Linked DNA regions of Homo sapiens: region 2 is linked to region 1. Evidence: fine-mapped expression QTL. A gene starts in region 1. The other region holds a variant in brackets. All regions are shown on one strand. Distances are from middle to middle.

What was found.
Region 2: its variant is fine-mapped to the expression of LDAH in whole blood (INTERVAL, PIP 0.98).

What each region holds. Positions count from the first base shown.
Region 1 is chr2:20,821,525-20,824,437 of GRCh38, forward strand. LDAH (lipid droplet associated hydrolase) reads right to left here and starts at 1,577. Exons shown (of 7, transcript NM_021925.4): 1 at 1,513-1,577. RefSeq lists enhancers at 453-1,278, 1,081-1,150, 1,371-1,760.
Region 2 is chr2:20,682,853-20,685,765 of GRCh38, forward strand. LDAH (lipid droplet associated hydrolase) reads right to left here. Exons shown (of 7, transcript NM_021925.4): 7 at 1,179-2,913. Among named protein-coding and RNA genes, the nearest start is that of GDF7, 17 kb to the left of the region's middle. The variant C/T (reference allele first, on the strand shown) is at 1,341.

The DNA.
Region 1 (2,913 bases):
CAAACACCACATGTTCTCACTCATAGGTGGGAATTGAACAATGAGAACACTTGGACACAGGAAGGGGGAGATCACACACCGGGGCCTGTTGTGGGGTGGGGTGAGTGGGGAGGGATAGCATTAGGAGATATACCTAATGTAAATGACAAGTTAATGGGTGCAGCACACCAACATGGCACATGTATACATATGTAACAAACCTGCACGTTGTGCATATGTACCCTAGAACTTAAAGTATAATTTTAAAAAAATTAAAAAAAAGAAAGAAAAAATCCTCCAGTCTGAAGGCATTAAGTTATCAAAAAGCAAAATATTAAAATATAAAATTTTAGATGGGCACCCACTGTGTTGCCCTGATTATCCCCCTAGAATGCTACATGCTGGAAAGAGGGGCCTTAGCAGGTTTCTAAGTCTTTAACCTTCAGGTGGAAAAATGGGGAAACACACAAGAGACACTCCTACGTATAGTTTCAGAAAGAAGTTTAATTAAAAAACAGCTTTTGAGAATAAACATTCTGGAGATGCTTCTAAATCTTCTGGGTTTCTTTTGGTTGTATCTCTTTCTCCATACAGATTTGTTCTTTCAACTCAAGGACTATCAACTCTTTTTTTTTTTTTGAGACTGAGTCTCACTTTGTCGCCCAGGCTAGAGTGCAGTGGCGCCATCTCGGCTCACTGCAAGCTCCACCTCCCGGGTTCACGCCATTCTCCTGCTTCAGTCTCCCGAGTAGCTGGGACTACAGGCGCCCGCCACCACGCCCGGCTAATTTATTTATTTATGTATTTATTTTTGTATTTTTAGTAAAGATGGGGTTTCACCGTGTTAGCCAGGATGGTCTCGATCTCCTGACCTCCTGATCCGCCCGCCTCGGGGTCCCAAAGTGCTGGGATTACAGGCGTGAGCCACGGCGCCCGGCCAGGACTATCAACTCTTGTGTTTGGTACACAGGACACAAAGCAGGTGTCCGGTAACTACTTGCGAGGGAAGATACGAATTAACCAAGGAATAAAGTGTTCCAATCTGCATTCTGTCTTGCGTGGGGAACAAAACCAAACTAAGACCCAAGGATGAGGGTTTACGGTTAAGGTCTTCAGCGTGAATAAAAGGCGGCGTGAGCACTAAACGCCGGGGGCAAAGAACACTCCCGGCCCAGAGTTTGACCCCTCCTAGCGAGTTCTTCCCGGCCAGCTGCCCAACTTTTTGGCCTCTACTCCTCCGCGGGGGCACCATAAGACTCCCTACAGGTGGGCTACACTTAGGGGTTCAAATGCTGCATTACCGCGCTCGGGTGAGCGACTGCCCGGCCTGCAACTCAAGGGACTCCCAGGCCAAGTGGCTCCGAACTCGCGAGCTGTCGGAACAGTATTATTTTTGCTGCTACGGGCCATCTGGCCCAGGGCAACAGGGGCTCTGCGAGGAACCATAGAGAAGAAGGGGCGCCAGATCCCGCGTGCCTGCCCACCCGTCCTTCCTTTGGGCAGTCACCCTGAGCTCGGCAAGCTGTACCTCACCTGTCCACCTGGAAGGCTGCCCGCTCTCCCTGAGGGTCCTGGGAAGGCGGCACGAGACCGGAAGTGCCCCCCTCAGGTGACGTCACAGTACCGCGCCGGAGCTGATCCGGGAAGCCGATGTCAGCCTGGCGCGCGGCGCACAGCTGGCTGGGAGATTTCTTACTGGCTTGGAGCCGGTGGTCCAGATCAGAGAGACCTCTTGGAGGGTGTCGGGGTTTTCCTTTCTTTTTCATTTGAATTTTATCCGCCTTTTATTTTCTGTCATCCTTGATGTGCTTCTGGCTTCTGGCTTCCCTTTCCTTCTCTCTCATTTGTTCCATGTCTGCCCCTCTTTTCTCCCTCTTCCCATTTCCCTCTTTCTGCGTTACTAGTTGCATATCTTCCCCACATACACAGGAAAGTTGATTCTCATTTGATCATGTTCATAAGCATGATCAATAAAGTATTTTTTTAATTAAGGTGTTGCCAACTTTAAGAAAATTCAGAGAATAATATTAAGTATAGAGTTTATTTGGGCTCAGTGCTTGAGAATGGCCACTCAGGAGCTTAGATTCAAGTTGCCTTGAATATACACTCCAATTAGCAGCAGTCGGAGTAGGTTTTTTTTTTTTTTTTTTTTTTTTTTTGAGACGGAGTCTTGCTCTGTCGCCCAGGCCGGACTGCGGACCGCAGTGGCGCAATCTCGGCTCACTGAAAGCTCCGCTTCCCGGGTTCACGCCATTCTCCTGCCTCAGCCTCCCGAGTAGCTGGGACTACAGGCGCCCGCCACCGCGCCCGGCTAATTTTTTGTATTTTTAGTAGAGACGGGGTTTCACCTTGTTAGCCAGGATGGTCTCGATCTCCTGACCTCATGATCCACCCGCCTCGGCCTCCCAAAGTGCTGGGATTACAGGCGTGAGCCGGTTTTTAAGGAAAGGAGAGGAGGCAGAGCTTAACTTGTTTACCAAGAATTTATATTTAAAAAACTTAAGCTATTGACTGGCTATGCTTTCTTCCTTGTATCACAAATTCCAGGAACATAAAGATAATGGGTGAGGCAGCTAATAAAGAACAAAATGCCTTTAACAATTGCCCTAAGGCATGGGAAGGCGTGGCGGAAGCCAGTATTCACTTCTGTCCGGGTCTAATAAATTTTGCATACCTCACATAGCTCAGACAGCTCTGGGCTATTTTTCTTTTCTTAGTATGTACTTTTTTTAGACATAATACTGTTGTACACAATAATCTACAGTACAGTGTAAATATAAATTTTATATGCACTGGGAAACCAAAAAAATTCTGTGAACTGCCTTATTGTGATGTTTGCTTTATTGTGGTAGTATGGAACTGAACCCCCAATATCTTCAAAGTATGCTTGGATTTAAAAAAGAGGTTTACTTAGCTCATGGTTCTGCACATTGG
Region 2 (2,913 bases), 140 kb before region 1:
GTGGTAATCTGTATAATGGGCATAGTCAGAACATCACAGGATTGGGAGGCCTAAGTGAGACACTGTGAAGGTGCTGGGGTGAGCAGCATACTCCTTATCTGGATTAGCTCTCATCTATTCCAAACCACCTATCCAAGTTCTACCTGCCCTTCTAGGACTAGGGGCAACCTCATCCTCTTCTCTCTTCCAAGAGCTTTGTCTTTATAGAACCCTTTATAGAACCATAGAACCACCCAGAGCTTTCTTTGACCCTCGTTCGTGCTCTGAGGATGCTCACCCAGCATCACACTCAGTGACGCCGGTCTTGCTCTAGAGATGCCTTCAGCCTGGTGGGAGAGGCCAGACCCATGTCCCACAGACACTCCTCACCTGGGCCAATGTGATCACTTACCCATGTCTGTATGGGGCACAGGCAGGAATCTCAATCCTCTTAAAAAGTGATTAGAAGAACACTCATATGAGCTTTGCTGTCCTCAGCACTCCTGCAGAAGAGCTTCATTCAAGGTCCCACAGATGTATTTGTTCACAGAGCACACTCAGTCCCAGCCTCCAACCTCTCCTTAAGGCCCACCCCTAAGGGAAGGAGCAGCCCAAATATATCCTTGCCTCTTCTCTTCTGCAAGAGAAGGCCAGGGATGAAGATGTCTCAAGCCATCTAAGAAATGCTTTGCTTCCCGCATCTTTTCTAAATCGACTGTTAGAACATCCTGGGCTGTGTGCAGGGAGGCCTGAATGGGCTGAGGCCAGAAAGCTGAGCCAGGTGAGCAAGTGTTATCCCTGCGTAAGAGCCAAAATGCTGACTGCTAGAATCAAGTTACAAGCCTGGTGAAACAGTGCAGGGACTGAGATACCACAGGGTCCTCTGCTACACTAAAGAGAAGAGAAATGAAAGGAAAAAAGGAAAAACAAGTTTGCTATCCTCCTTTAGGTACCATTTTATAGAGAATCCACCATATGCCAGGCAACATACTAAATGCTATATGCATGACCTCATTTTATCTCCATTAAAAAAAAAATGAGGAGCTGGGGGACTCAGGGAGGTGAAGTGAAGTCTTATGTCACAAACCTAACAAATGACAGATCTGGGATTTGAACCCAGGTCTTCATTTACTGCGTACAAGAGGAAATAGCCTTTTTGGAAAAGAAGCAATGAGACACGGATGCAGGAGATAGCATGGTGGGGTTTTAAAAATAATTATTTTTACAAATTCTAAAACATCTCAAACTTCCAAAAAATCTGCAAGTACAAAGAACATTATTTTCCCCTCAACCATCTGACAGTAAACAGACATGATGCCCCTCACCCCCAGATACCTCAGTGTCTCCAGTACAAACAAGGA[C/T]ACTCTCTTACTTCTTCCCAGTACAACCACTGAAATCAGAAAATTAACAGTGGCATCTTACTCCCAGCTAATCTTCAGACCTCATTCAAGTTGTGCAAATTGTCTCAACAATGTCTTTTATAACAAAAACATCCAATTCAGAATCAGATGTTGTGTCCAATTGTCATGTCTCTTCAGTCTCCTTTAATCTGAAATTGCTTTTTTTTTTTGCTCTTTTTTAAAAATTATTTTAGACACGAGGTCTCGTTTTTTGCACGGGCTGGTCTCAAACTCCTAGCCTCAAACGATCTTCCCAGCTCATCCTCCCAAGGTGCTGGGATCACAGGTGTGAGCTACGGCACCCAGCCTGTTTGTTTTGAATATAATGTAGGATGAAGAAAAATCAAGCCTTTGGTGGTCCGTGTCTCTCCAAAGGTTGAGTGGAGAAGCGTATGGTGAGAGGCCCTTGGTGGCCATGGACATCAGGCCACACAAGCCACAGAGGGCTTGTGGAGATGCTTATGGCTGGGAACAGACTAGGAACAAACACGGGTGTGGTCAAAGCTCAATCGCTGAGCACTCGGTAACTCTGCAGGAAGTTAAAACTTTCACAAAGACCATCCATGTGGTTGACTGGGACATACAGGCAGAGCTGCTTCTGGAAAATGGATTTCTTCCACTGTTTGTCCATTTTAGTCTAATCCCTAATGAAACAGAATGAACTTCAGTCTCTTGAAATCTGATTCTTCCACCTATGAAAAAAGCAATGAGAAAGGTGGCTTTTCACTTTAAAAGAGAGACTTTGAGCCGAGTCTAACTCAGGAGAACTGCTCAAATTGTACCCTCTCTTGCCCAACACAGAGATCAGGCCAGACCAGGTCAGAAATGCTGGTAAAACATTTATTTCAAAAATTCATTTGGTTTTCAGATGATAAATAGGAATTAAGAATGAGTATCTTTCTTAGGCTCTAAAAACCAGAAATAAGACACAATTTCATACGTGCAGACTTTTGAAATATGGAGTAACATTTAAAATAACAGATAAAAGAAAAGCTCTGAATGTTACTCTTTATTCTGGTAGGTATGATTTACCCAGTATTGTTTACATGCCTTGATTTAGTATCAGTGAGTATCTCCTGTATGCAAGGCGCTCAGAGCCATGATTCCTAGCTTCTAACATCCGATTTCTAGGCCTCTCATGCAGATGCCAATAAAGGATCTGTGTACAGCCCTGTGCTTACGGCCTATGTATCTATTAGCTCTTCCCCTTGGGCTAACAGCACTCCTTGTCTGGAGCTTGGCTTTTCCCCTCTGAGAAGTCACTTGCTGTGATGTAGAAGCTATGCCAAAGCACAGTAACTCATTCAGCACTTACCAATAAGTTGGCAGCAAATCAGAGCCAAATCTTTCATCAGGGGGCTTTAGGATTTGAGCGGAGGGACATCTCATTGTCCTTAGGGAATGATAATGCCATGAGGGATTTCCTCTAGGAGAAAAAGGAATATTTCTGATCCATGATCAACTGTCACTGCAGTATGTGGTTCTCAAGATTGAGTCAATTTAGGGGAGGCAGCAATATTGTCAGCCCACTCTA